5 linked regions of the Homo sapiens genome follow. The protein of the gene in region 3 interacts with the protein of the main gene of each other region in a biochemical or structural test. Each region holds a gene or a part of one and is shown on either strand. Other genes may lie near its edges.

Region 1 (6,402 bases), on a different chromosome or scaffold from region 3:
AGAGTGAGGGGTTGCAAATTAGCTGGGAGTGTCGGTGCATGCCTGGAGTCCCAGCTATTTGGGAGGCTGAGGAAAAAGGATCCTCTGAGCCCAGGAAATGGAGGCTGCAGTGAGCCTGGGCCATGACCGCAACACTGCACTCCAGCCTGGGCGACAGAGCAAGACCCTGTCTTAAAAAAAAAAAATCTCCGCGCACCTTTTCTGTGCACCTGCTTCCCCTCTGCACACCTCGTCTGCAGATCTTGTGCCCGTGCCTGTGTTGGGCTGGGCACCGCCCGCTTCCCCTCCATGCCTCATCTGCAGATCTTGTGCCCGTGCCTGTGTTGGGCTGGGCACCGCCTGCTGTTTGCTTTGAGGACGCCAGGCGTATCATACACGAGTTTCCTTTATTTCCAGTCTCTGCTGACACTAACGACGCTGTCAGGGCCACGAGTCTGGCCTCCGGTTGCTACAGCAACAAGCTTTTGGCAATTAACAAATTCATCAGTCATCTCTTTTCCTCCGCATACACGCTGACGGCTGTTCCGGGAAAACCCGGCTCCCATCCTCCCATTAGGCTTCCTCCACCTCACTCCGTTTTGAGAACTTGAAACAAAACAAGACAGAGACAGTTCTCGTAAACGTGAAGGTGCTGCCGTGAGGGGTGTCCCGAACCCCTGGAAGAGCTCAACCCACTGGCAGGTGGACGGGACAGGAGACCCTTGCGAACAGAGGCGGTGTTTCAGGCCCCCAGAGCAGTGCATGGCGCTGACCTCGGGGAGGGGGCAGTCATGACTGTGAACAGGAGAGCCGAAGTGCCCTCTCAGGTCGAGCTCGGGACGGTCACCAAGTCCAGGAGGGGGCGGGCCTGGATCTCGTGTGCACGGGGCGCGACCCTCACAGTCTGGTGCCCGGCTCCCTGCCTGTGTGCTGATGCCTTGCTCAAGGGAGCCCTGGCCCCTCCTAGTGGGGCCAGACTCGGGGGTGCTGGCAGGTGTGGTTGACTCCCTCACAGCGACGCTGGGTTGGACGTATCAGGGGCACTGAGCAGAGCAGGGGCAGGGGCAGGGGCCCCGACCGAAAGTGAAGACGGGGCAGACGAGAGCCAGGCGGGACCCTGGGGCAAGCAGGGAGAGGAGGGGGAGGGCGAGAGGTGCAAGAACCAGTTCCAACAATTCTTTTCTTTCTAAAATCAAGCGAGGAAGCCATCCGTGGCAGAGTTCTAATGGCAGCAAGAGGATGGCAAAGAATGGGAAATGCCAGCTGTGACTCTCTGTTTGAGGTTTAGAAATATGTTCCCCTCACAAGGCCGACAAAAACACCCAGAGTGCTGTTGACAGCAGGACACACCTTCAGAAACGCCAGCATAACTTGGCAGGGTGCCACAGGACCTGAACCGAGCCCACGGAAGGGACCACCTCAGCTCCCGCTGGAGAGCCCTGTGCACATGCACCAACACGGCTCACACACAGACACGGCTCACACACAGACACGGCAAACACACAGACACGGCAAACACACAGAACGGCTCACACACAGACACGGCTCATGTGCAGTCACGGCTCCCAGGCAGACACGGCTCCCAGGCAGTCACGGCTCACACACAGACATGATAATGATGACTCTAAAGGCCTCTGATCATGACTCTGTCGCTGTTGTGTGAGATGAGGCGGCCGCAGGCGCTCATGGCATTCGCTGGGAACAGTTTCTTGTGGATCCACAGCTGGGGACGCTGTGGTCTGGGGCTGTGCTAAGTGCTTCTTCCTTAGATTTTCACAAGAAACCTGCGGGCAGGCGCCACCATCCCCATCTCACAGCAGGGGCCTGGACCTCACGATGCTGGTAAGAATGCTGAGAAACGTCCTCCACGCACTTTGGAAAAACGTAGCTGACTCGGGAGACAGGGTCAGGGCTTCCATGAGGCTGAGTGTCTGGGACCAGGTCAACGGCTTCCACCCTGAGGGGTCACAGAGCCCGGGCTGGGGCGGCCCTCCCTCCATGGGTCCCCCCAGGCCCTGCGCGGTCCCTCCTGGTGCTGCGAATGCTGCACCCTCGGTCTCGCTCCGTGATGAAGTACAGGGAGCGCCTCACTAAGGTGGCACAAAACCTTTGCTCTTAGTTAAACGATGTTTGGAGCATGGGATTTAAAAATACGAGATGAATGGACTTTAGTCATTAAAAATTACCTCGAACATTAGACACAGCTGCAGACTATGGTTAGTAAATGTCCGCAACTGATACTAGCTTCACTTCCTCAGCATAACATGCAATATTTGTATTTTGTTCATACAACCAGCTGCACAGCTCCATAGAGAAATGTTAACAGATAGAATTTGGGGAAAATTTACAGCTTTAACATTTATCTCAAATTCAACATTGAATAAGGCAAGAATACAAACAGAATAATATATATGTATACCCCACCCCCATATTTCAGTTTTCCAAACACACTGGGCTGTCACAGTGCACACGATTTGGCACCGGAAAGATATCCGTCAGTGCGGCAAATGCACAATTGTGTCACACCAGCATCTAATCCAAAGGGGATGGAACAATCCACAGGCACAGGGTTCCCGTGGCCACTGCCAGCGTGGCCGCGGGAACAAAAGGGAAGACCAGTGCTGCTCACCGTGAGGCCGCCACGTCACTAAAAAACCCGTGCCGGCGTGGCCAGGTCTGCACGCACCGGACACCTGCAGGAGGCGCTGCGCATGGCGGATAATTTCCCCAGTGCACCCTGGAGTGGAACGTGGCGTGAGAGCGGCGTTGGGGCTGCCCAAAGCAGGTGAAGCCTCACACAAGCGTGGGGGGCTCCGCGGGGACCTGGAAGGAACCCACCAGATGACGTCAGCGGGACCCAACAGTCCAACCACCTACAACACAGGGCTGGGCTCTGCCAAGGAAAGCAGGCGGCAAGAGCTGGTCTGCTGCTGAGAGTGGGCCCGGGCCCAGGGAGAGCCAGCGGTGCCCTCCCTCCGTGGCGTCTGCACCTGAGTCCCAGTTCCCGCAGGGCCCCAGCGGGGATGCCACAGCTCTGGGTGTGAACATTGTCATGCTCTCCTCAGCAATCTCATGGCATTAGAATGAACCTGTGTGTGTTACAGGTGGAAGAGGGGCAGGGGCCCTTCCCAGCAGGGAGCTGGCCGGGCGCTCACCACACCTGACCCTCCCCTCCGAGAGCCTGCTGCCAGGCCGGGGCTCTTTAAAGTGGGAAGTTCAGTGACCTATTTTAGGGTAAGAATTGCTGCTTCGTGTATTGGTATGAAAGGACTGGAAAAAAATTAATGTCTCTCATTTAAAATTGGGCAATCATTAAAAAACACTATTTGATTCAGCAGCTTTGTACCCAAATTCTAAACTGCAGGCACCAGAGTGGCTGGCAGCACACGGTCAAGTCACGCGACCAGGAGCCTTTAGCCCTGTGCACCAAGGACCACTTTAACACCCCTAGGCACGGTAGGCACAGTGGGCACGGTGTTCACACCTGTAGGTCCAGCACTTTGGGAGGCTGAGGCGGGAGGATCGCTGGAGGCCAGGAGTTTGAGGCCAGGCTGGTCTCAATGGGCAACAAAGGAAGTCCCCATCTCTACAAAAAAATTTTAAAAACATTAGCCAGGCATGGTGGTGCGCACCTGTGGTCCTACCTACTTGGAAGGTTGAGGCGGGACGATCCCTTGAGCCCAGGAGTTCAAGCTTCCAGTGAGCCATGATCGTGCCACTGCACTCCAGCCCAGGCAACAGAGTGAGACCTTGTTTCTTAAGCCCCTAAGTATGGGGTGGGCAAGGCAGGGCCTCCTGACCTGTTCACAGTGACAGCAGTTGTCAAAACGCTCTCACTTTTCCAAGAGATGCAGTTTGTGTAGCTATGAAAACACGAAAAAGCAAACTTTCACAAACCAAAACTCCGCGTGCTATGTGAAGGGAGAACGAACACAACCTCCACCTCCGACACCCTCGAGTGGCAAACCCTGAAGAGACCGCAGAGTCAGAACACGCATGGGAGGGACGCACGGACAGAACGCGCATGGGAGGGACGCAGGGTCAGAACGCGCACGGGAGGGACGCGGGGACAGAACGCGCACGGGAGGGACGCAGGGACAGAACGCGCACGGGAGGGACGCGGGCACAGAACGCGCACGGGAGGGACGCGGGGTCAGAACGCGCACGGGAGGGACGCGGGGACAGAACCCGCACGGGAGGGACGCGGGGACAGAACGCGCACGGGAGGGACGCGGGGACAGAACGCGCACGGGAGGGACGCGGGGACAGAACGCGCACGGGAGGGACGCGGGGACAGAACGCGCACGGGAGGGACGCGGGCACAGAACGCGCACGGGAGGGACGCGGGCACAGAACGCGCACGGGAGGGACGCGGGCACAGAACGCGCACGGGAGGGACGCGGGCACAGAACGCGCACGGGAGGGACGCGGGCACAGAACGCGCACGGGAGGGACGCGGGCACAGAACGCGCACGGGAGGGACGCGGGGACAGAACGCGCACGGGAGGGACGCGGGGACAGAACCCGCACGGGAGGGACGCGGGGACAGAACGCGCACGGGAGGGACGCGGGGACAGAACGCGCACGGGAGGGACGCGGGGACAGAACGCGCACGGGAGGGACGCGGGGACAGAACGCGCACGGGAGGGACGCGGGCACAGAACGCGCACGGGAGGGACGCGGGCACAGAACGCGCACGGGAGGGACGCGGGCACAGAACGCGCACGGGAGGGACGCGGGCACAGAACGCGCACGGGAGGGACGCGGGCACAGAACGCGCACGGGAGGGACGCGGGCACAGAACGCGCACGGGAGGGACGCGGGGACAGAACGCGCACGGGAGGGACGCGGGGACAGAACCCGCACGGGAGGGACGCGGGGACAGAACGCGCACGGGAGGGACGCGGGGACAGAACGCGCACGGGAGGGACGCGGGGACAGAACGCGCACGGGAGGGACGCGGGGACAGAACGCGCACGGGAGGGACGCGGGGACAGAACGCGCACGGGAGGGACGCGGGCACAGAACGCGCACGGGAGGGACGCGGGCACAGAACGCGCACGGGAGGGACGCAGGGACAGAACGCGCACGGGAGGGACGCAGGGACAGAACGCGCACGGGAGGGACGCAGGGACAGAACGCGCATGGGAGGGACGCACAATCCAGTCAAACACGTATGTGTGCTGACCACTCATCTTCCCCACAAAAATTATCCATGCCACAGTCATTACAACTGCTTTGGAAAAGCCTGAAACTCACATGAACTTACATGTCGTGGGGACACCTCCTAATCCCAGGAGCACCTTCTGATTCCCCACCCCACTCTCAGGACCCACAAGTCTTTCCCATGGAGTGGCCTGGTACCCCTGCTGAGAGCCAGCTGGCCATGGACATGGGGCTGTTCTGGGATGGACACTCCTGCTCCACGGCCCAGCACACTGTCATCACACCAGCCTCCGTTACTCTGAAGCACGATGTGCGTCCTCTGGCCTGCTCTTCCTCAAGACCCTCCAGGGTCTCCTGCGTTCCTGTAAGAGCTTCAGGACTGGTCTGTGGCCCCTCCAGGGGCAGCATCCTCCCACGACGCCCCCCATGACTGAGTGGCGGGGGAACCTCCAAGGTCTCGCCATGGCCGCCTCTCCCTTTGCTTGTCAGTTTCTGCCACTGGTGAGTTGGTTCTCACTTCCGGTGCACATGTGCTAGCAACTGTCACTCTTCCCGATGGATCCAGCTCTTAGCATCGTAATTCCATCCGTTATCATTATAAAGCGTCCTTCTTTACCTGTAGAAGCATTCTTTGTTTAAATTCAGTCTTCTCTGATATTAGCGGAACACTCCAGCTTTCCTACGGTGATGGCCTCTGACCCAGTTGTCCATCCACTCATAGTTAAAGCTCTGAATCCCCTCACGTTCACACCGCCACTCTGCTTTGTTTCTCATGCCTCATGTAGTTTTAGTTCCTGTCTTCCCTTTTCTGTTTTCTTTTGCATTAAGTGAATACTGTCTAATGTAACATTTTGGTTCCTTTTGTGAACTCCAAGTATCTGTGTCAGGTCTCACTTAACTTAAAAAGTTTATTTTGCCAAGGTTGGGGTCACCTGCCTGTGACACGGCCTCAGGAGGGCCTGACATGTGCCTGAGGTGGTCGGGGCACGGCTCTGTTTTACACATTTTAGGGAGACATGAGACATGAAAGAACATATGTAAGATGAACACTGGTTCACTCTGGAAAGGTGGGACAGCTGGAACCAGGGAGGGACTTCCAGGTCACAGGTAGACAAGAGACAAATGGCTGCATCCTCCTGAGTTTCTGATCAGCCTCTCCAAAGGAGGCCATCAGATCTGCACCTGTCTCAGTGAGCAGAAGGTGGCTTTGGATAGAATGGGTGGCGGGTTTGCCCTGAGCTGCATCTGTCTCAGTGA
Region 2 (6,402 bases), on a different chromosome or scaffold from region 3:
AGATTTTCCATTCCTGATTTTACAAGTTCCCAGATAGTGCCTAATCTGCTTCAGAATTGCATAAACCTTTTTAAAAATTGTTCAAGTAAATTAGCAGCCAACTGAAGTGATATTAGGGGTGTTACTTTTCTGGGTTTTATTCCCAAAAGCTGTATTAAGACATCTCATTAAAAAAATGTTAAGTATCATGTCCAAAATAACTACAGAAGATAGAGAATCAATTGAGTAAGACTCTTCCTTGCCCCGTGTGTCCTGCCAACATTTCAAGTAAGCTACTCAGAAAAGTTGTCGTTTAGTCCTAACACTGTAATAAAATTCAAGTAATTAGACCTCACCTTTTCTTCCTGGTTTCATTTCACCTTCAGGATCCATCCAATATTCTCTAATATCAATTAGCACTTTGCCTTTAAAATCGCGAACACTAACGTACCTCATTTTCCCAATCTGCAAAAGAAACAAACATAAAAAGAGGTGCTCCTTTCAAGAGTGGTATCTGTTTCAATTGTATTCATATTCACAACTTGCTGCATGCTCACTCTACATCTAATCATGAAAATGACTACTGCTGACCCTTGAACAACATGGCTCTGAACTGTGCAGGTCCCACTTATATGCATATTTTTTTCAATAAATATACTGGAAAAATTTTTGCAGACTTGACAATTTGAAAAAACTCACAGAACAACTGCATAGCCTAGAAATAACGAAAACATTAAGAAAAAGTTAGGTATGTCATGAATGCATAAAACATACCTAGATATGAGGTTATTTTATCACTTACTATCATAAAACATACAAATCTATTATATGAAGTTAGAGAGAAATGTAAACAAAGATGGAGTATTAATTCATAACTGCATAAAATTAACTACAGTAGTGTACTAGTGTTAACTTCATAGCCACTTCCTGTTATCTCAGTGTACTCAAATGTTACAAGTATCTGCTTAAAACACCTTGTGTAAAACACCATGTGATGCTAATCATCTCTGCTGAGCAGTTCATGTCTCCAACAAATTGCGTATTGCAGTAAAAAGTGATCTCTCACGGTTTTCACATTATTTTTCATCATGATTACTGCAATACCATAAACTTTAAATAACACCATGAGTCCTATACAAAGTGCCCCTAGTGATGCTGAAAGTGCTCCCAAGAAGCAGAGAGAAGGCATGACATCACAAGAAAAAAACTGCCAGAAGCAGTGGTGCATGCCTATGATCCCAGCTACTCAGGAGGCTGAGGCCGGAGGATCACTTGAGCCCAGGAGCTTGAATCCAATCTGGGCAACACAGCAAGATCCTGTCTTTAATTTTAAAATGCAAAAAAATAAAAATAAAAATAAAAATAAAAAAGTTGAATTGCTTGATATGTACCACGGACTGAAATCTGCAGCTGTGGTTGCCTACAATTTCTAACAGATGACATATTTTATTAACAGATGACATATCTTATAAACAGACAACGTAAACTAATGTTATTGATAAACACCATACAGTACAGTAAAATGTAATTTTTCTCCCTTATGATTTTCTTAGTAATATTTTCTTTTCTCTAGCTTACTTTATTGTAAGAATACAGTATATAATACATATAACATACAAATATATGTTAACTGTTTATGTTACTGTTAAGGCTACCAGTCAACAGTAGGCTATACTTAGCAGTTTTGACAAAGTCAAAAGTTATAACCAGATTTTCAACTGCACAGGGGTTGGTGCCTTGCATTTTGACCCTGCATTGTTCAAGGGTCAACTGTACTACTCTCAGTATCAAAACTGCAACCAAAGGAAATTGCTGTTTAAACTATCATATGATCCAGCAATCCTACTTCTGAATATATATCCCAAAAAATTGAAAGCACAGACTCCAAGAGACATCTGCACACCCATGTTCATAGCAGCATTATTCACAAGAGCCAAGAAGTGGAAACAACACAAATATCCACCCAGAGATGAACTGATAAACAAAATGGGAGAGGGGGGGTGGAATAGACACACAATGGAATATCAATTAGCTTTTAAAAAAGGAAATCCTGTTACATACTACGTCAATGAAATAAGCCAGTCATAAAAAGGAAAAAGGTAATACTTTATGATTCCACTTACATGATGTCAAGTTCACAGGAACAAAAAGTAGAATGGTGGTTACCAGGGCTGGGAGAAGGGGAACTGTTGTTTAATGGCCACAGAGGTTCAGTTTTGCAAGATGAAACAGTTTCGGCAATCTGTTTCACAACAATGTGAATATACTTTTATGGTTTTTACCAGCAAAAAAAAAAATCATTAGGAAGCAATATTTTGCAGTACAAACTACAACCAAGAGGAATCCACAGATGCAACTAGCTACACTGCTTCACCAACCATTCTGAATATACGAATCCAGAGTTCCAGTCAATAACAACCAAGTTTTTCCTTTTCATGTTCACTTCAAATAACATCTTTAATGCACCTCACTCACAGTCAGATTGAGAACTTAAAAATATTCACAGAAAATTATTTTTCAAAAATCTTATATATCTGCTTACCACAAATTACAAATTCCAGAGAAAAGAACAGGCTTTCCTCAACAAAGTGTCTCTTAGCACTTTCCAAGACTCACTATAATATAGTAAGGGAAGACAATGCAGTACTGGAGTAAAGACAGACATAAGAGGTCAGTGGAACACAACGGAGTCAAAAAATACACACGCATTGGATATATTCACTGATTTTTTTGGGGGGAGGGGGTAAAATCCAAGGTAATTCAAAGGAATAAGAATACTCTTTTCAACAAATGGTGTTGAAACAACAGGCTATCTGCATTTGGGGTGGGGAAGACTCTAAATCTCTATCTTACATCATACACAGAGAAATTAATTCTACATGAATTATAGACCTAAATGTGAAAACTAAAACTATAAAACTTCTAGGAAAAAACACTGGCAAAAATTTTTGTGGCCATGGTAGGCAAAATACGTCTTGGACAGAAAATAAGCATTAAGCAAAAAAGGAGAAAAATCGATAGAATAGACAATCACACTAAAGCCTTTTTTAAAAAGATGCTTCAGAAAATAAAAAGGTAAACCAGAAACCTAAAGAAAATATTCACTCAAGTTGGAGCCACAGGGGTCTTGGCCTTCGAGGAGAGCCTGAGGAAGAAGCAGAACCGTGGACGTGAAGAAAATGATGAACTGACCAGAATCCGTGAGGACCTCATTTCCAAGAGAGAGAAGATCTGTCACAGACGCCCCTGACCAACTGCCAGTCCCCCCTTATTCTGTCTGTTTGATTCTCTCTGGTTTCATATTTTCCTCTCTGTTAACCTCCACTCATTTTTGAACTAGATTGCTTTGAAAACTAAAGTTTCCCTGAAGTCTAAAAAAAATATTAATTATACTTACATCTGACAAAATATATAAAGTGTTACAACTCAAATGACCTGGCATTTTAAGTGGCCAAAAGATACTCTTCACAAAAGATATAAAAATAACCAATAAACACACTAAAGATGTACAATGAATTAAGACATGTACATGAGGGAAATGGAAAGTAAAACCACCATGAGCTACCATTATACATTCAATGTAACTAAAAAGAAAAAAACTTAAAAGACTGACAATATCTAGCGAGGATGTGGAGCAACTGGAATCTCCTAAGTAGTACCGATGGCTGTGTAAAATGCTACAGCTACTATGGAAAATGGTTTGACAGTGTCTTATACAGTTACACATTTACCCTACGACTCAGCAAATGTATCTGGTATTTACCCAAAAGGGAAAAAATGTCCACAAAATGACTTGTACAAGAATATTCACAGCAGTTGTATTCCTAATAGCCCAAGACTTGATACAATCCCAATGTCCACCCAAGGTGAATGGATTTACAAGTTGTAGTATTATCATACAAAATACTACTCAGCAATAAAATTACTGATATATGCAACAAGAACTAATCTCAACACATTATACTGAGCAAAAGCCAGACACAAAAAATAGACTGCATGTATCCATTTATACAAAGTTCTAGAAGAGACAACATAAATCTATAGTGGTAGAAATAAGATCAGTGATTACCTAGGACATGAGCAATGACTGTAAAGCCAAGAGGAACTTCCTGGGGTGATGAAAATGGTCTGGCCACAAAGGCGTGTACATTTACCACAGCCTATCAAGGTATGCTTTTAAATGTGTGCGTTTTATTGGACATAAACTATACCTCAAAAACATTTTTTTTTTTAAAAAAAAAAGGAATCTGCCCAACAGCTGCCTCTCCCTTGGGGGGAAAAAAAGAGTAAAACTGACAAATTCTTATTAGCAAAAATTAAACAAGTGATGAGATAGTAGTATAGGGATATATTACTTAAAGATAGAAAAAATAAAGATCACTGAAATCACATTTTATTGGAAAAAAATAAAATCAGATGACAATATATTTTATATCCACAAAATCTGGAGATTAGCAGCAAAAAATAGCATATACATCATAAAGAACTGTGATTCTTATACGAATTTGATTCCCTGTCCCCTCTGAAGATCTGATAAAGCAGTGGTTCCTAACCTTTTTGGCACCAGGGACCAGTCTCACGGAAGACAATTTTTCCACAGCAGGTAGGGAAGGGGAAAGGTGATCGTTTCAGGATAAAAATTATCCCACCATCAGGCATTAGATTCTCATAAGGAATAAGGAACGCACAACCTAGATCCCTTGCATGCGCAGTTCACAATAGGGTTCGCGCTCCTATGAGAATCTAATGCCGCTGCTGATCTGACAGGAGGCAGAGCTCGGGCTGCAATGTTCACTCACACACCGCTCACCTCCTGTGCAGGAGGGACCCCTGTGATAAAGGTTATGAATAATTCCTTCAAACACAAAAAAGAAAACTCAAATTAAAAAACAATTCTATGGACTCCTGCCCCAGATTAAAATGACCAGTTATAATCATTTTAAATTAAATAATTTAAAAGTATCAAGTATCCTTAAATCATCAAATAAACTAAAGCAGTATTACTGACCCTTTGTGCCTAACTCTGAAGAAAAATATGGATTAAAGTTTCCTGCCTCAACTATTCTGACCTTTCAAGACACAGGTACTAAATAATTATGAGATAATTCTCCAGTCTCTTTACTATCACAGATGTCACCTCAGGTAGACTACATCCCTATGGAAGAAAGTTCTTCAAAATCAGAGCTGAAGGAACCAGGAAGTAAGCATCTCTAGTATCTTCTCTCTAGTCACGATTCTGCCCCAATCACTTCAGACTTTAAAAGATAAGTCTATTGATTTTTCTTTGGTACAACTCTTTAATACATTTAGAGAACTGCTTATGTATTGATGTTTGATGTACATCAAGCTGTAATGGCAATGAAATTAAGTATCATATTATTTCATAATGCCTACACTACTAGATCCATGAAAGCCACTCTGAAAATAAGGCCTAGGCTGGGCGCCGTGGCTCACACCTGTAATCCCAGCACTTTGGGAGGCCAAGGCAGGCAGATGGCGAGGTCAAGAGATCGAGACCATCCTGGCCAACCAGGTGAAATCCCGTCTCTACTAAAAATACAAAAATTGGCTGGGGGTGGTGGCGCATGCCTGTAGTCCCAGCTACTCAGGAGACTGAGGCAGGAGAATCTCTTGAACCCAGGAGGCGGAGGTTGCAGTGAGCCGAGATTCGTGCTACTGCACTCCAGCCTGGTGACAGAGCGAGACTCCGTCTCAAAAAAAAAAAAAAGAAAAGATGACCTATGTTCCTCCTAGAGGCAGGCTTTCAAAAGGTGCAATGTCAGCCTTAGGAGGCTTAGGAATCTTTCCAGATGAGGGTTTAAGAAATGAAGCTCCGTTTTTCTGGTGAGAAAATTCCTAAAATTAGATCTAGTTTTCACAAAACTCCTCTTAACAGAACAGAATCTCTAAAATGTGTGTTCTGAACTAAATAGTTCATCTGCACTTTGTCTATCTTTTTTACCTAGAAGTATAACAAGGCAAAAATAAGCAATAGGAAAAAAAAAACTTAAATTTTCCCATTCTCACCTTAATCTTGGCACTCCACCTTTCAAAGTTATCAACAGGTCAAAATATACATGTGTTAGCCTTACTTTCTAGTCATATAAATGTCTACAGTCTTGGCCAGTCACGGTGGCTCACGCCTGTAATCCCAGCACTTTCAGAAGCCAAGGTGGGCGCATCACTTGAGCTCAGGAGTTCAAGACCAGCCTGGGCAATACTGTTTCTACCAACAACAAAGAAAATTTGCCAGGCGTCATGGAGCATTGCCTGTAGTCCCAGTTACTCAGGAGGCTGAGGCAGGAGGATCATTTGAGCCCAGGAAGCGGAAGTTGCAGTGAGCAGAGATCACACCACTGCACTCCAGCCTGGGTGACAGAGCAGAGACCCTGTCTCAAAAAAAAAATTGTAGTCTCGTTCCAC
Region 3 (6,402 bases):
TGTGCAGTGGCGCCAATCTGGGCTCACTGCAACCTCAGCACTCAAGCCATCTTCCCACCTCAGCTTCCCGAGTAACCGGGACTACAGGTGCCTGCCACCACATCCAGCTAATTTTTGGGTTTTTGTTGTTGTTGTTTTGCTAGAGAAAGTGTTTTGCCATGTTGCCCAGGCTGGTCTCACATCCCGGGCTCAAGCAATCCACCCACCTCAGCCTCCCAAAGTGCTGGGATTACAGGCATGAGCCACCACACCTGGCCACCTTCTCAATAAGGATTGTGTGTTTTCATGATCTCTTAACAATACCCAGCAATGTTGTGCACATGGGAAGAATGCTTATCTTACAAATAAAATATTATGAAAAACATTCTTGAGGTGACAGGTATGCTAAGTACCCTAATTTGATCATTACACATTGTATACACGTATCAAAATATCACATTGCATCCCACACATGCATAATTATTAAATAAAATTGAAGGCCGGGCACAGTGGCTCACGCCTGTAATCCCAGCACTTTTGGAGGCCGAGGCGGGCGGATCACGAGGTCAGGAGATCGAGACCATCCTGGCTAACACGGTGAAACCCCATCTCTACTAAAAATACAAAAAAAAAATTAGCCGGGCGCGGTGGCGGGCGCCTGTAGTCCCAGCTACTCGGGAGGCTGAGGCAGGAGAATGGCGTGAACCCAGGAGGCGGAGCTTGCACTGAGCCGAGATCATGCCACTGCACTGCAGCCTGGTGACAGGGCAAGACTCCGTCTCAAAAAAAAAAAAAAAAAAAAATATATATATATATATACACACACACACACACATATACATACACACACACACACACACACACACACACACACATGAACTGAAATAGAGGTTTTCCAAGATAGCTGTAAAAATTAAATCAAGCAATCTGAGTAACAGAATTGGCATACAGCAAATATTTAAGAACTGCTAGCTACTACCAGGTTCCATTATTATAAGCAACCTATGCTTATAACTATACCAGTGGTCTGCAGCTTCTAAGCTGGTACCCAATGATTCCTGCCTCCTACTATTGCCCTTGTAATACCCTCTTTAGTGTGAGCTGGACATACTGACTTGCAACCAACAAAAAGAACATGGCAAAAATGACAGGATGTTGCTACCACTTTTAAGTTATAAAAGACTGATTTCCACCTTGCTCGTACTCTCTATGGCTCTTTTTGCTTACTCTCTCTGAAGAAGCAAGCTGCTATGCTGCTGTCAGCTGCTATACGCAGAGGCCCACATGGCAAGGAACAAAGAAAGGCTTCCAGCCAACAGCGAGCAAAGACCTGGGACTCAGTCCAACAGCCAATGAAGAACTAAATCCTGCAGACAACCATGGGAATGACTCTTGAGATTACGGCAGCCCAGGGAAACATCTGATTGCAGCCTTGTGAGAGTTGCTTGGCCAAAAGACCCAGCTAAGCTACACCCAGATTCCTGACTCACAGAAGCCGTGAGATGATAAATGTTGCTAGAGGAGTAATTTGTTACACAGCGATAGGTAAACAATACGATATATAACAACAATATGCTCCAGAAAAGCTTCTATGGACAAAGAAGGCAGTCTAGTAAATTTTAAAACAAAGCACAAAGGAATAAACCCAAATAGCATCATATCCAGTCCATACCTGTCCTCCTCTTGCCAGCATGCTAACCCATATAGTACTGGTGGGTCGGGAAGAATTCTCAAGACATGATCTACACTCTCCTGTGTAGGCATATTTAGAATCCTTTTTGGCAAACACATAAACTGTGTTTGTTGCCATTTTCTCTTGGGCAATCAGAACCTATTTGGACAATAAGAAAGTTACAGCCATAAAATCCAAAACATCACTGAAGAGAAAAGAGAGTAAAATCTGCATCTTAATTTAATCTGACCATATAGGCTCACTGAAATATTTAATTCTTCAACTTTACAAACTCCATTTTGCATAAATGCTTCATAGAAATACATAAACTCCAAAACTGACCAAATTCCCAGTGCATGTTATATACAGCTAAATAAAGCTTTGGTTTATATAAGTTTAGCTGTCATACCCTAAACAAGTCAACTGTCAGTGCCAGGTTATCCTGCAGGAAAATCTTTCTTTCTTTTTTTTTTTTTTTTCATTTCAACTTTAAACTAAATTTTAACTACCATTTTGTAATTTTTTAAAATAATGTTACTATACCTTTTCTGATCCATTAATAATGAAATAGCCACCAGGATCCAAAGGGCATTCATTTAACTCACAAAGATCACGATCTGTCAAGCCATTCAAAAGGCAGTAAGTTGACCGCAACATAATTGGAATTTTTCCTATAAAAGTTTTCTGATGCTGAGTCTGAAGTTGTTCTTCACCTTCTTTAATGACTGTTTTTGTTATATCAACATAAAGCGGAGCAGAATACCTTTGAAAATAAAAGTAGATCACAGTTAAGCAATAGGGTATCTGTTAAAACAAATCCTCAAGTGGTTAAAATTACATTTTCAAAATTCTATTTCAGTATCTACTGCTGACAAGGAAAAATTCTTTCTTACGTGAGATTCCTTAATCTAGCTTCATTGGGCATCATTGGTGAAGGAGCACCATCTCTTTCCCAATGGGTAGGCTTGGAAAGATAAATTTGTTCAAACTTCAGCAAATATCGTGGCTGAAATTAAACAAAAAAACATGAAAAGGGTAAATAATTTTTTCCATAAAAGTTTTAGTGATTCCATTTTAATTGACATTAACATTTTAAGTACAAGCAACTCTACAAACTGGCAAAATTAATCCATTTTACTGAAATGGGGACTTCCCAAAGTCAATATCCATATTGCATAGACGTTAAGTTTTAAACCAAATCACTTTCTTTTTTCCTCTTTTCTTAAAAATTTTTTTTCACATTAGACAGGTAATGTGCTAACAAGGTTTGTAACAAGGTTTAAGGAAGGCACATCTCACACCCAATCATCACACACTTATCAACTACAGAAGGATCTGCTAATTGCTTTCTTAAGGCAGAAGACAAAAAGAGACTTAATATACTAAAAGTAAAGACTGTACACATCATGTGCTCTGAGTTTATATGAAACAGTTAAAATGGATTTACATTAATGATCTACATAGTTTCTTGTGCCCTCTCCTTGGTAAGCATCATCAAAAATACAAAGTGACCAGAGAACAAAGATAACAAATCCAGACAACTAGAACTATGCTCTAATCTAATCAATAGAACATTTTAAAAAATAAACCTCTCTTCAGTTAAATATACAAATTAATCTGTCAAAGGAGTAGAGTTAACAAAAGAAAAAGATTTTTTTATTTTAAAAAACACACAAAATATCCTAATCATTCTATATAAAGGGCTGAGAATTTCCAACTCTGGCTGGAATATAGCTTAGTTCATAGAAAAAAAAAGAAATTTTTCAATTAAACATTCACTTGCTGCCTAATAAAACAAGATCCATGAGGACAACTTTCTAGAGATAAATGGATAGTGTACTTTTCTCTAAATCAAGTCTCAGAGAAGAAAACAGGAGTAAGCAGACGTTTTACTAATGATTAATTATTGACACTCAAGTCTCCCAAGCTGGGCTGGATAAAGGGCAAAGAGAACGGTGGTGATAACGAACCAAAGGGAAGCCAATCCTCTACTCCTTATCTGTGCCATCATCTAGTCTAGGTCATTATTATCTTAATCATAGGCTATTCTAAGATTTTTATCTCCTCCAGTCTCTTTTGTTTTGTTTCATTTTGTTTTGTTTTGTTTGAGACAGGGTCTCACTCTGTCACCCAGGATGGAGTGCAGTGGCGTGATCTCGGCTCACTGCAGCCTCCACCTCCTGGGTTCAAGTGATTCTCCTGCCTCAGCCTCCCAAGTAGCTGGGACTACAGGCGCACCACCAGGCCCGGCTAATTTTTGTATTTTTTGGTAGAGATGGGGCTTCACCAAGCTGGCCAGGATGGTCTCAAACTCCTGGCCTCAAGAGATCTGCCTGCCTAGGCCTCCCAAAGTGCTGGGATTACAGGCATGAGCCACCACATCTGGCCTCCTCTAGCCTCTTTCTATTCCAAGCAAGCATCACTTTCCAAAGTAACTTTTCTAAAATAATGCTTTATGTATATTCTTTGACAGTCTCTCAGTAATTCCTCATAACATCCAATGACATTCAAAGCTTTCAACAATCGGGTTCCATCTTATCTTCCTAATGCCTATTAAAAATAGAGAAGCCCTGTAATCCCAGCACTTTGGGAGGCCAAGGAGGGCAGATCATGAGGTCAGGAGATCGAGACCATCCTGGCTAATACGGCAAAACCCTGTCTCTACTAAAAATACAAAAAAATAATAGCCGGGCGTGGTGGCAGGCGCCTGTAGTCCCAGCAACTCAAAAAGCTGAGGCAGGAGAATGGCGTGAACCCGGAAGGCGGAGCCTGCAGTGAGCCGAGATCGCGCCACTGCATTCCAGCCTGGCCAACAGGGCGAGACTCTGTCTCAAAAAAAAAAAAAAAAATAGATAAGCCAAAATCACATACTGATCATTGTGGTCCCCAGCCTAAATACACCAAGTATTTTCTTTTCTTTTTTTTTTTTTTTTTTTTTTTTTTTTGAGACAGAGTCTCGACCTCTCGCCCAGGCTGGAGTGCAGTGGCGTGATCTCAGCTCGCTGCAACCTCCGTCTCCCACGTTCAAGCAATTCTCCTGTCTCAGCCTCCCTAGTAGCTGGGACTACAGGTGCCTGGCACCACACCCGGCTAATTTTTGTACTTTACTAGTAGAGACGGGGTTTCACCATATTGGCCAGGCTGGTCTCAAACTCTTGAGCTCAGGTGATCTGCCCGCCTCGGCCTCCCAAAGTGCTAAAATTATAGGCATGAGCCATCGCACCGGCCACACCAAATATTTCCTTGCTGAAATGACTAAGCACCTTTTCTCTTCTAAGAGAGTTCTTCATAGTAAATTTAAGTCTCTTCCATCTTTTCTACTAAGCTCTGATAACTAGGTGTTAGAGATCTACTCCTCTTTTAGTACTTCTGTTACTGGCACGTTCAATTTGCTATGTTATATTGTTATCTGGCTTGTTATACAAAGACCATGAAGAAAAAATGACCCAACAAGCCAGGTGCAGTGGCTCATGCCTATAATCTCAGCACTCTGGGAGGCTGAAGCAGGTGGATCACTTGAGGTCAGGAGTTGGAGATCGGCCTGGCCAACATGTGAAACACCATCTCTACTAAAAATACAAAAAAATTAGCCAAGCATGGTGGTGGGCACCTATAGACCCTGTAAAAAAGAAAAAAATGACCCAAGAATAAAAAAGAAACTTAATGTCCCCCTTTCCAGCACAGCCCTAGAAGAGCCAATCACTTTCATTCTTAACAGCAAAATTCTGTACAGCATGTCCAACTAAAATGGAAATAACAGACCAGCACTTAGGAGATAAGCTACACAGAAGAGAAACTGATCAGGCTAGAAACAATGAACTCTCCCTGTGTCTAGCTCTATTTTGGGGGCTTTCCCTACCTCACTTTGTTTCTCAGTTTTCCCTGTCTCTCAAAGTCCAATATGTTCCAACAGCTGCCTCTCAACTTCTCTAAAACTGGGACAGTCATTATTTTGGACTACATCCTTCTTATAATCACTCATGTAAAACCAAATTATAAAATTATACCCTTAGTATGATTTTAACAATGCTAAAAAACCTGCATATATGTGAGCAAAAGCTACAAGAAACTTAGTAAAGATAGCTGCTATGTTTGGGTGATTTTCCTTTCTTATCTCATATGGTTATAATAATGTACTTCATGCAATATATAAAATCAGATGAAAATTCCTTCAAACATTTTTTATTATTTTTACACTGTGAGAGAAAAAAGCGGGGTTATCTATCTAAAGCAATGTGACCATCTCTGGCTCACTTCTCTTATTTGTTCATATTTCAGAGTCCTCTCTTCCCAGCTATTCAATACCTACTATGTGAATAAGGATGGGATAACTTGCAAAAAAACACACCTCTTCATTAGAGAAAATAAATCAGAAAGTGATTGACGGTGCTGTAAGTACTTTGCTAAAAGCTCCAACTGACTTTTTTTAACCTTTAAGCCAGGTAAGAGAAGGGCTAAAATTTCAAACCAATACGCTTCTTGTACCTGTGTAACTATTAGAACTATCTTACCGGTTCTTCAACTTCTCCACTAGCATGCTGAGCTTCAGCCTGTAGGTCTATAGGAGGAGCGTCTTCCACAATTCTTTGAACAGACATCTGAATAAACTCATCAAAAGAATCCAGCTGTTGTCTAACCAAGCCTTTCTCGTCAAAATAGGAACTGGGAAAATATTTGAGTTCAGTCAGTTGCAACTCAGTGATAATTTCTAGCATAATTCCCCATTTTCATTATTTCCCCATTTTCATTAT
Region 4 (5,159 bases), on a different chromosome or scaffold from region 3:
TGAGCAGAGACTAAAAATCAGTGAGGAAGAAAGGCATGCTGGTTTCTGGAAGGAAAGCATTTCAGCAGAGGAAACAGCAAATATGCACCCCTTGAGTTGGGAGTGTGCTTGGCATGTTCGAGGAACAGAGGAAGACTAGAGTGGCTTCTAGTGGATAAAGTGCTGGAAGTTGAGATTAGAGAGGTAGCTGGAGACCAAATTATAAGAGAAGTAGGGTAGAAAAAAATTAACCTTAGTGAGCTGAGAAGCTGTATCAGTTAGCTTTTGCTGAGTAACATGTAATCCTGAAACTTAGTGGCTTAAAATAAACTTTTACTATCTTTTGCATTGCTGTGAGTGAAATGTGCAGTTTCTTCTCCTCTGAATTGGCACAGCTGGGGCTGGATAGTCTGGGATGGCCTCACTTACATGTCTAACTAACTAACTGCTGGATGCCGGTTCTGGGAGTGACTACGTGTCTCTCATCATCCAGCAGGCTAGCCCAGGAGCCGTTCCCTATGATGGAAGTTGCAGGGTTCCAAAGATCAACAAGGAAAGGCAAGCCCCAGTGCAAAGCACTTTCCAAATTGGCCAAGGCCAGTCACATGGCCAAAGTCAGAGGTCATATGGGAGGGGTGATCCCCTCCAGGTGTAGATTCTGAGAGTGGAGTTCTGACGGCTGCTTTTGCAAATGACAATAATGTCTGAAAAGTGACATTATCTGATTCATAGTTTCAAAGGTCCTGTGATAATAAGGATTACGTAAGGAAGACTATAGCCAGATGGGAGGATGTGGCAAGGCTATGGGCCACTGGAGGGCAATGGTGTTTGTTTGTTCGACTGCTCTGCACCACAGATGCAGAGGCACAGAAGTTCAAGACATTGTCTGGCCTGAAGCTGCCATGATCAGGAGGGGGAACAATGACACCCAGCCTCCACACCTTCCTGGTATTTCAGCAGAAGCATTTTCTCCGTCTTGCCAGAGTGGACTTTCTCATGTGCTTGCTGGAACGGGCTGGAAATCATGGTGTCCATGAGATGGGATGCGCAGATAAGAGCTTCTGCACAGCTCCCATTCTCAAACATAGAGATACCCGCTAATCACTAAGTACTTGCTAATTGCAGGGGAGCAGACCATTGAGGACTAAAATAACTCACTGTAAGTAAGTAATAACAAAACATCTTAAGGTGAAATGAAACAATAGTCATTTTTCTTTTTTCTTTCTTTAACAGAAAATATGCTGGCATGCTAATCGCGTGAGACAACTTGGCCCACGGACAGCCACAAAGCACAAAAACAAAACACAAACTCACTCAGAGAAGAAACAAGAATCGTGTTTTCCTGGCATCTACGAGAAGCGCTTTATTAGAAGCGCTTTATTTTTCCTCTAGATTTCTTTTCTAAAAAATGAAAAACAAAAACAAACTGAAACAAACATTTAAAGAAACAATACAAACTTCAGGTGATGATATTCAAGCATGTTCTTTTATTAAGCATAGGATGCGAGGCACAGCAGGAGGTTTAAGTACAATGTGAAAGCAAGAGAACTGAGACTGTGATTGACAGACAAAGGGATTAACTAACGTTTTATTCTCTGCCCCCCAAAATATCCTGTGTATTCTTAAGTATATACGCTTCCCTTCCTGCCTTTCAAGGTATCTAAGGAATGATTTGAAAAATTTGTTATAATCTCTAAAGAATTTTTTGCATAGCATTAGCAAAGGAGTCTATGACAAGTACTTTGCCACCTGGTAGTTCTGCGTATTCTACTCCCTCTGGGTGTCACTGTCATCCTCACTGGCTGGGACAAGGTTCTGAGATTTGTCTCCCCAGCAGTTGCTAAGCTGGCTCAGTCTTGGTCAGGATGAATGAAACAATTATCTCCTGGATCAATGCAGCAAGGAGCAGTGAACACTTGCTTTTTCTTCCCTAAGTAGGAGAAGGCCAGCCCCCGGCTGCAGTGGTGGCCGTGGTGGTAGCTGGATGGGACGAGGGGACCTCAGGCTATTCTATAACAGTAAAAGAAAGAGAATTGCTGGTGCTTCTCCAGGGAGATACGGAACCTACACACCAAGCAGGTTTTTACTTTCAAACAGGCCACCACCAGAAAGCAAAGAGACCTATGCCTAGCCCAGCCCCAGAAAAGTGATACTTTACCCCAGGAATTCCCTGCTTCCCATTGGTACTTAAGATTTTTCACTCTGTTGTGACTGCTCTTATTTCCTTTACTCTTGCGGATCTGTGTTGGAGGGACATTTGGAAGGGGCCCAGCCCTGGCACTTGCGTGAGGGGACACACACAGGGCGGGTGTGTGTGCCCATCCGCTCTGAGCTCCACTTAGCCGGACTGGCTGCCAAGCCGTTCTTGGATCAGCCTCTCGCTGAGCGCCCACAGGGTCCGGGCCGTCTCTTCGCTCTGAGCTTCTGGTGAGGGCATGCAGCGGCAGCAGTTGTTGAAGTACATCCCTCCCAGACCCTCCAGTTCTGGGACAGCAGCACAGTACACGGTGGTGGCAGCTCCCTGTTGCTGGAAATCCAAGAAGAAAGACAAAAAAAAATTTTAAGAAAAGGAGTGATGAGATGGCGTCATTTCGACTGCCTGGGCATTAGCAGGCCTCCCCCACCTGGTTCAGTTTCAGCTGGATCTTGGCATAGCAAAGGGTACTGGGCTGAAAGCACATGACTGTAAAAAGTATAATGTGACTATCCTGGAAAAACGAGTTCATAAACTCCGCTTGTAAAGCTGGTGTAACTTTTGACACCTCATACAGGGACAGGCTTGGAAAATAAATACACATATCAATACGTCGTGGCAGGCGCCTCTTCCACACAGAGAAAAAGATGGTATCCTTCTGAACGTGCAAGAACAAATTCATCCAACCCCTCAACTTCTCCATGTATAATGTAATTCGATACCAAATCGTTTGTAGAACCTTCTGTCTGACAAACCAACCACTCTTAATTGTGGTCCATCAGGTAGAAAACCCAAGTGGGGCTGCTGCCAGATCATCCCTTTATGCTTTGCCCACGGTGCTGCTAGGGGAAGGGTTGGCAATGTTGTGTTAAAACATTTAATGCACACACACACACACACACACACTCCTCACCATACATTCATACTTAGCACAAACACATAACACATTAATTCATCCAGATCCCATGAAAACCTTTTTCTAAATGTCATATTTGACCCAGATTTACAATGGGACCACAGGTAAGGGGGTACATTTCCTCCCAGCCCACTTCAAAATGTAAGTTGCAAAGAGTGCAGCTGATCACTTTCATTCACCTTTTGAGTAACAGTTGCGGCTGTGGCTAGGGACGTGTGCAGTGATGAGGCATCATATCATCCAAACTGACAGAATACTGTCAGGGATGCTATAAAGAGGGCAAGAAATCACTTTGCTTTGCAAGCCATAATTAAAAATAATAGGCTGCTGTTCAGAGGGAGACATGGTCGGCACGTCTCTAATTTAAAACCAATACAGTTTATCTGGCATCTTATGATTATTTATGTGTTTCAGAGCCCTAGCTGCATCCACTAATTTTCAGCTGATGAGAGGGAGAGGGGTTGCAAGAGAGGACCGGAAAAGGTAACTGAAGATAAGCTCGCCCCCACAAGGAAAACACTAAGGAACTTTGATTGTGGGGGAAATGGCTTTCCGACCCGACCCAAAGCTTATCATTTTTCTGCCCCTGCAGGGTTTACATTGTGACCATGCAGGGTGCTTACTGGAGGAGTTTCCCTCAAATGGTCTGGTTTGCAATCACTATGCTTGCATTCTAGGATCCCTGGGAGAGTCAGGTCCATACTGAGAAATAGGGTCCCAAGGAAGGTGTTACGACGTGAAGAATCTGCCATAAGGCAGACTTGGGTTTGTTGTTGTCATTGTTGTTTGGTTTTAGCTTCTTCAGTGTCAGGATATCTAGTAACAATGGAGTTGGTCTGAAAACTGAATGGTCAAATGCAGTCAAGTGATACGACTCTGGGCGGGGTGTGGACCGTGAGTGAGACAAAGACTTGGGTTTTGATAATAACTGGCTGCTTGATGATACTGGACAAGTTCCACTGGTCCTGAATTTGAATAACTGACATGACTTGAACTTAATAGTAGCTGGTTTGTTACCTCCCCAATCTCCCTCCATTATCATGCCCACTCCAAATAGCCAGATATTATCCTGGATTCAGCTGTTTCTTTTCCCATTGATTTGTGTGGCTCAAGTCTAATGGAAATGAGTTCATGTCATCCAAATTTCCTTTCACTGAATTATTATTCCTAATAACCCTGAGCTTAGCACCTGGCACATTTATCTAAACAACTTCAAGGGGTTTATCTGGCTCTTCTGCATCCCATGTGGGGAAAAGGGAAGCAGAAGTGCCTCTAAAGACAAATTGGAGAATTGAGATGCTCATCCAGCTAACTCAAGCCAAGTATTATTTTGGCCTGGAATCTTAGAGTTCTGGTGGAGATGGTGTTTTGTATCAACTTCCAGATATCTGTCATATATTTTCATTTTACCTTGCAGCTGCCAAAACGACCAGAGTGGCCAAGTGACTTGCCATTAACTCCCGAGTGGTGGGAGAATCCAGCTCACCCATTTCAAGTCCAGCCTCCCGCCCTCTATGCCACAATGGTTATACTATTCAGCATTCAAACGTCATGACAGACTGGCCTTTCACTGTTCTGCCAAGCGTGAGGAAAGACCAAAGCAGTCCGTTTGGGAAAGCAAAAAGCAGAATTCTTCCTAACCTGATAAAATATTTTGCCACTATGACCTACTGTAATGATACCACGTTGCACTCTTGCATTACTGGAATGGTATTTTTGCTAAGAAATTCTGCAGTCCCATTGATTCAGAATGCCATTGTTGCAGGAGCTGGGGACCTACCTTTTCCTTCCACGGAATCTAAAGGCAATTACAACTGGCTTCATTTCATGCCAACCTACATTTGGCTACAATGCTGAGAGCCATACCTTTTTGAAAAGCCTAACTTTTTATCAGGAGATGGCTTTGATTCCTTTGCCACTAGGCTTGGGGTGATTTACCATCTAAATTCCATCACAAGTGGCTCTGGCTTTGTAGAACACAGTACACAGGAGGGGCACCCGAAAGCAAAGACGACCTTCTCTACTCCAAAAATCAATCGTCCACCTTTGGCAAATTCTCCTTCTCAGATT
Region 5 (6,402 bases), on a different chromosome or scaffold from region 3:
AATCTTGTGATCTAGCAATACCACTGCTAGGTATTTATCTAAAAGAAAGAGGCCGGGCATGGTGGCTCACGCTTATAATCCCAGCACTTTGGGAGGCTCAGGCAGGTAGATCGCCAGAGGTCAAGAGTTTGAAACCATCCCGTCCAACATAGTGAAACCCCATCTCTATTTTAGCTGGGCATGGTGATGGGCGCTTGTAATCCCAGCTACTCAGGAGGCTGAGGCACAAGAATTGCTTGAACCTGGGAGGCAGAGGTTGCAGTGAGTTGAGATCGCGCCACTGTACTCCAGCACGGGTAACAAAGCAAGACTCTGTCTCAAAAAAACAAAACAAAAACAAAAACAAACAAAAAAACTTGGCTTTCAAAAGAATGACATTACTCTGATTATATGGAAATAAGTTTCTTTATTTTTTAATATAATTTGTAAAGCTGAGACAGGATCTATGGGGTCCAGGCTGGTCTTGAACTCCTGGGCTTAAGCAATCCTCTTGCCTTGGCCTCTCAAAGTGCTGAGATTACAGGCGTGAGTCACTGCACTGGCCAGAAATAAATTTTAAATTCTTATAGGTTGCTAGGCATGGTGACTCATGCCTGTAATCCTAGCACTTTGGGAGGCTGAGGCAGGCAGATCACTTGAGGTCAGGAGTTCAAGACCAGCCTGGCCAACATGGTGACACCCCGTCTCTACTTAAAATATAAAATTTAGCCGGGCGTGGTGGCACCTGTAATCCCAGCTACTTGGGAGGCTGAAGTGAGAGAATCACTGGAACCCAGGAGGTGATGGCTGCAGAGAGCCGAGATCACGCCATTGCACTCCAGGCTGGGTGAACAGACTGAGACTCCATCACAAAAAAAAAAAAAAGCAAACAAATCTTATAGGTCTAATGCTCATTTCTCCAAAAATGACGTCAACTAGCTATGGGAACTTAGAAGGCAGAAATGCCAATGAAATCCAAATCTTTGTATGTAACACTGGGGATATCACTAAATGATTAGAAGAAAATAACTAGAGATCCTTTTGCCTCAGAGTACATCCAAATTTCAACAAAATTAAGCTTTTTTTCTTTTACTACCAGTATCTTCTTGGGTAGAAAACAAATATTTAGGTTCTTGTTTGATAAACTGGGACAAAGGAATTTCTCCAGGAATCTTAATCTTACCTCTAGATCAGTTTCCATAAAATCAAAGACAAGGCTAATATTAGATTTATGTCCAAAAGCATCAAGGAGCTGCAAAGTTAAAAAATTAAAATGTGATTCACTATTTAATACCTGACAGTATCATAGCAACTGAGGCAATTTTTAAAAATTTAAAAAGCATTTAAACTGTTGGTAATTCCCTATAAAGCTTAAATCATTTGATTAAATTTGACATTTGTCCTTTTTTGGACAGTACTAAAGGAATTAGTATTTTGAAGCATAAAAATATTAAATTTTACTTAAAAAAATACCCAACCTCTTTCCCCAAATATTTGGAGTTAGAATTAAGAAATTAACCAATGAAAACCTCATTCCAGTCTCCAATTCAAAAGAAAAGTCCCAAATGTGATTCTTAAGAAATCCTCTAAATAACAGCAGCTATCATTGAATGAATGAATACATTTTCTATGGTAGGCACTATTCCAGATACTTTACATCTATTCAATTGGCTAGTCTCACAACTTCCCTATGAGGCAGGGACTCTGGGGAGTTGTGAGTGAACACACTCAAGGTCTCACACAGGCAGAAAGAAAGGTTTTGAATTCAGGTTGACACTCTCAGCCACTACATGCTAGAGCTCCCTAGACTTCAAAATTATTTCCGACAAAATTAGCCTACATGTCAATATTTCATTTATTTAATCAGTGGTATAGTTTTGAAGACAATGCCTACCAAAACAACTGGGATAGAAAATGTATTTCCTTTAAGCTTCTACAAGGCTCATCCAGAACAAGTCATCTTGCTGAGCCTTTAATCAACATCCATTATATTAAGAAAAGGCAGAGTCCCAAATCCCAGTAACAGTTTTGATCATACTCACACCAATTATATTTGGATGACTTAGCTCCTGTAATAATTTTATCTCTCTTAAGGCGGTTCTATTTATACCTATATAAAAAGGCAAAGCAAAAAGTGAATAATTCTGAAATCTCAAACCTTACAAACACTTCTTTTTTTTTTTTTTTTTTGAGATGGAGTCTCGCTCTGTCGCCCAGGCTAGAGTGTAGTGGCGTGATCTCGGCTCACTGCAACCTCTGCTTCCCGGGTTCAAGCAATTCTCCTGCCTCAGCCTCCAGAGTAGCAGGGATTACAGGCACGCGCCACCACGCCCGGCTAATTTTTGTATTTTTAGTAAAGGCGGGGTTTCACCATGTTCATCAGGCTGGTCTCCAACTCCTGACCTCGTGATCCACCCGCTTTGGCCTCCTGAAGTGCTGGGATTACAGGCGTGAGCCACCACACCCAGCCACAAACACATATTTTTAAAGAAAGGTTAGTAATCTCAGAAAATAGTGAACATTACCCACAAAAATAAGGGCTACTTTGACAATTTTTATGTCAAATCTGTTGTTCTTTTACATTGCTTTATTTTTATTTATTTATTTTTTTTGAGATGGGGTTTCACCCTGTCAGCCAGGTTGGAGTGCAGTGGCATGATCTCGGCTCACAGCAGCCTCCACCTCCCAGACTCAAGTAATTTTCCCACCTCAGCCTCCCGAGTAGCTGGGACCACAGGTGTGCACCTCCACGCCTGGCTAATTTTTTGTATTTTCGTTAGAGATGGGGTTTTGCCATATTGGCCAGGCTGGTTTCGAACTCCTGAGCTCAGGCGATCTACCCACCTCACCCTCCCAAAGTGCTGGGATTACAGGCGTAAGCCATGGCACCAGGCCAATATTGCTTTACTTTTAAAATAGCTTAACAAAGACTACGACAAATGGTGAAAAATATTTCACCTTATCTATACCAGGATCTGAACACCACTACTAGACTAACAACATATATAAGTGTGCAGCATATAGGTGATAAGCTTCCCTACTCTTGCCCTACAAATATTAGTGGCATATTGTTTGTGCTAAAAGCAAACTAGTGATAAGATAGTATATTTTCCAATACAAATGACAGATTTCAAAATTAAAAATTAGATACAGGCCGGGCGCGGTGGCTCGTAATCCCAGCACTTTGGGAGGCCTAGGTGGGCAGATCACTTGAGGCCAGGAGATCGAGACCAGCCTGGCCAAGGTGGCAAAACCCCATCTCTACTAAAAATACAAAAAATTGGCTGGGCATGGTGGTGTGCACCTGTAATCCTAGCTACTCAGGAAGCTGAGGCAGGAGAATCGCTTGAACCCGGGAGGTAGAGGTTGCAGTGAGCCGAGATTGCGATACTGCACTCCAGCCTGGGCAACAGAGCATGACTCTGTCTCAAAAAAAATAAACAAAATAAAAATAAGATATAGTATTGGCACTTACACAGACAATGGGTCTCTTTTGTAAGAGCTATTTTATGATGAATCCTAATAAATAAGACTTTGGAAGAAAGTTTAATGAAATAATTTCCTCATGTATCTATTCCATAGTAAGCTTTATGTACTTTCATGAAAATGTATCCTGAATTTTCAAAGTAATTAGAAACTCAGAAACAGAAAAAACAATGGCTTGTAACACCTAAAACAGTAATGAAGACAGAAAGACAAACTAATTAAGCTTGCTGCCTTCCATTTATGTGGGTGATTTGGAATGTTTCTCTGAATATCCAGTAAGTAAAAATCACCAAATACTCCTTCTCTATGCTGAGTCTATCTTTACTCTTCGGGGACCCTGCAGTAACTCTATCCAGAACCATTACTAACTTATTAATTCATACTTTGCTCGTTTCTTCAGTGAGAATGAAAACTTTATGCTGGGCATGGTGGCTCAAGCCTGTAATCCCAGCACTTTGGGAGGCCGAGGTGGGAGGATAGCTTGAGGCCAGGAGTTTGAGAGAAGCCTGAGCAACACAGCCAGACCTCATCTCTACAAAAAATAAAACATTAACCACAAGTGGTGGCACATGTTTACAGCCCTAGCTACTCAAGAGGCTGAGGTGGGAGAACTGCTTGAGTACCTAAGTTTGAGGCTGCAGTGAGCTACGATTGTGTCTCAGTACTCCAGCCTGGGTGACAGAGCAAGACCCTGTCTTTTTAAAAAAAAAAAAAAAAAAAAAAAAAAAAAAGGAGAAAACTTTTCCTATCTGTCAGATTACATGAAATACTTACCATCTTTAGCTTCTGATCTATGTCCAAGTTTGATCTGGTAGAAACGGAAAAAAACCCAAATATATTAAAAATGTGTTAAATTATTTAGAATCAATGAATAATGTGTAAATACTTCAAATACTTCGCCACAGAAAAAAAAACAATTAGCAACCAATATGTACCTACTAGGCAAAAAGAGAGTAGGAATCATGATCAGAAAGATAAAATTAACAATATAAGAGAGAATCAAATACCTACCCTTGTCCCTTAAGTTTCTGAACTACACATTCAAATAATAAAATTAAGAAAAATCTATTTTACCTTTTCAAGGTTCAATGTGGACCAAATAACTAAGGGTACCCTGATTAAAAATAAATACGTAACTTCAAATTAGGCTACTTGGGAGGAAAGATACAGAAAATAACATGCTGTAGAGTTGGTAATAAGCCCAATAATATGCTCTTAGACACCACATTTTTCAAAAAGCAAAATTACAAATTGTGATGGTTAAAATGTTGTTACTCTGAATAAACATAACAAATTACATTAACAGGTTTAGTCTTACACAAAATAAATTACCTGGGTAAAGAACATTCTCTCACTGCTTTTTAGAAAACTGTCAGTAATCAAGAAAAGACTGGCGGGGTGTAGTGGCTCACACTTGTAAATTCCAACACTTTGACAGGCCAAGGTGGGAGGATCGCTTGATCCCAGGAGTTTAAGACCAGCCTGGGCAACATAGCAAGACCTTGTGTCTACTCAACATTTTTAAAAATTAGCCAGGAGTGGTGGCACGTGCCTACAGTCCCAAGTACTCAGGAGGCTGAAGCAGGAGGATTGCTTGAGCCCAGGCTACAGTGAGCCATGATCACACTGCTGTACTCCAGCCTAGGCAACAGAGAGAGACTGTCTCAAACAAACAAAAAAACAAAAACACAAGTGGCTCATGCCTGCAATCCCAGTATTTTGGGAGGCCTGGGTAGGAGGATTGCTTGAGTACAGGAGTTAAAGATCAGTCTGGGCAACATAGCAAGACCCCGTCTCTACAAAAAATGTAAAAAGTTACTGGGGCATTGGCTGGGTGCGGCGGCTCATGCCTGTAATCCCAGCACTTTGGGAGGCCGAGGCAGGTGGATCACGAGGTCAGGAGTTCAAGACCAGCCTGGACAATATGGTGAAACCCCGTCTCTATTAAAAAAATACAGAAATTAGCCAGGCATGGTGGCACACGCCTGTAGTCCCAGCTACTTGGGAGGCTGAGGCAGAAGAATCGCTTGAACCCAGGAGGCGGAGCTTGCAGTGAGCCGAGATCGTGCCACTGCACTCCAGCCTGGGTGACAGAGCGAGACTCTGTCTCGAAAAAAAAAAAAAAAAAGTTACCGGGGCATGGTTGCATGTGCCTGTAGTTCCATCTACTTGGAAGGCTGAAGTGGGAGGATTGCTTGAGCCCAGGAGTTCGAGGCTGCAGTGAGCTATGATTGCACCACTGCATTCCAGCCTGGGCAACAGAACAGGCGATTCTACTTCTAACAAACAAAAAAACCCACAGAATTTCTTAAAGTAGACCATTTAGGATTCATGATTTGCTCACTATAGAGCCCCTGGGCCCTGAATAATCAGCAGTGGTAACCAGGGCCTCACCATGGGCCTCAGGTGAAACTCCGAGACATATTGGCTTCAGGTATGACACAGCACATTCACAGCTGTAGTGGCTACCAGCAGAGACTCCTGTTTGAGAAAATGAGAGGGAAGAGTAAAGGAGATTCTGTCTTGCAGCTTAGGGACCAGCTTGGTTGCCCTGGGGAAGAGCACCAGGTGGGCTACTAGGGTCCATGAATCCAGGCCTTGGCTCTTGGATGGCATTTCTGGACCTACCCCTGGAACAGAGGGGAACCCACTACCCTGAAGATGAGTCCCAGGCCTGGCAGCATCCAGCATAAGCTGACTGAGGAGCCCTGGGCCTTAAGTGAACACTGGTGGTACCCTGGCAATAATCCCCTCTTCATGGGCCTGTGGTGCTGATGGACACAGGAGCAACTCCTCTGCCTGAAGAAAGGGGAAGAAAGAATGGTAATACAGAGTCTGGTAATACAGAGAATTCTGGACCTTATCCAAGACCACCAAGATGGTACCTCTATAAGTCTATAAGAACTACAGCATTACTGGGTTCGGGGTACCCCCTAA

The links.
Region 1: the proteins of POLR2B (region 3) and CTDP1 form a complex in vitro, tested with the Homo sapiens proteins (one study listed by BioGRID).
Region 2: the proteins of POLR2B (region 3) and SUB1 form a complex in vitro, tested with the Homo sapiens proteins (one study listed by BioGRID).
Region 4: the proteins of POLR2B (region 3) and WWOX form a complex in vitro, tested with the Homo sapiens proteins (one study listed by BioGRID).
Region 5: of the proteins of POLR2B (region 3) and CDK7, one has a biochemical effect on the other in vitro, tested with the Homo sapiens proteins (one study listed by BioGRID).

The regions. Positions count from the first base shown.
Region 1 is NC_000018.10:79,743,969-79,750,370, reverse strand, and holds part of CTDP1 (RNA polymerase II subunit A C-terminal domain phosphatase), read right to left. Parts: intron 1-6,402. UniProt on the Homo sapiens protein: Processively dephosphorylates 'Ser-2' and 'Ser-5' of the heptad repeats YSPTSPS in the C-terminal domain of the largest RNA polymerase II subunit. This promotes the activity of RNA polymerase II.
Region 2 is NC_000005.10:32,593,003-32,599,404, reverse strand, and holds part of SUB1 (activated RNA polymerase II transcriptional coactivator p15), read right to left. Parts: intron 445-6,402; coding exon 336-444; intron 1-335.
Region 3 is NC_000004.12:56,990,659-56,997,060, reverse strand, and holds part of POLR2B (DNA-directed RNA polymerase II subunit RPB2), read right to left. Parts: intron 6,314-6,402; coding exon 6,163-6,313; intron 2,987-6,162; exon of another isoform or gene 2,891-2,986; intron 2,658-2,890; coding exon 2,545-2,657; intron 2,415-2,544; coding exon 2,195-2,414; intron 1,811-2,194; coding exon 1,652-1,810; intron 1-1,651. UniProt on the Homo sapiens protein: Catalytic core component of RNA polymerase II (Pol II), a DNA-dependent RNA polymerase which synthesizes mRNA precursors and many functional non-coding RNAs using the four ribonucleoside triphosphates as substrates.
Region 4 is NC_000016.10:79,208,955-79,214,113, reverse strand, and holds the end of WWOX (WW domain-containing oxidoreductase), read right to left. Parts: exon of another isoform or gene 2,507-5,159; coding exon 2,318-2,506; 3' UTR 1,447-2,317; downstream 1-1,446. UniProt on the Homo sapiens protein: Putative oxidoreductase. Acts as a tumor suppressor and plays a role in apoptosis. Required for normal bone development. May function synergistically with p53/TP53 to control genotoxic stress-induced cell death.
Region 5 is NC_000005.10:69,250,289-69,256,690, reverse strand, and holds part of CDK7 (cyclin-dependent kinase 7), read right to left. Parts: intron 5,947-6,402; exon of another isoform or gene 5,863-5,946; coding exon of another isoform or gene 5,860-5,862; intron 4,274-5,859; coding exon 4,240-4,273; intron 2,090-4,239; coding exon 2,022-2,089; intron 1,232-2,021; coding exon 1,163-1,231; intron 1-1,162. UniProt on the Homo sapiens protein: Serine/threonine kinase involved in cell cycle control and in RNA polymerase II-mediated RNA transcription. Cyclin-dependent kinases (CDKs) are activated by the binding to a cyclin and mediate the progression through the cell cycle.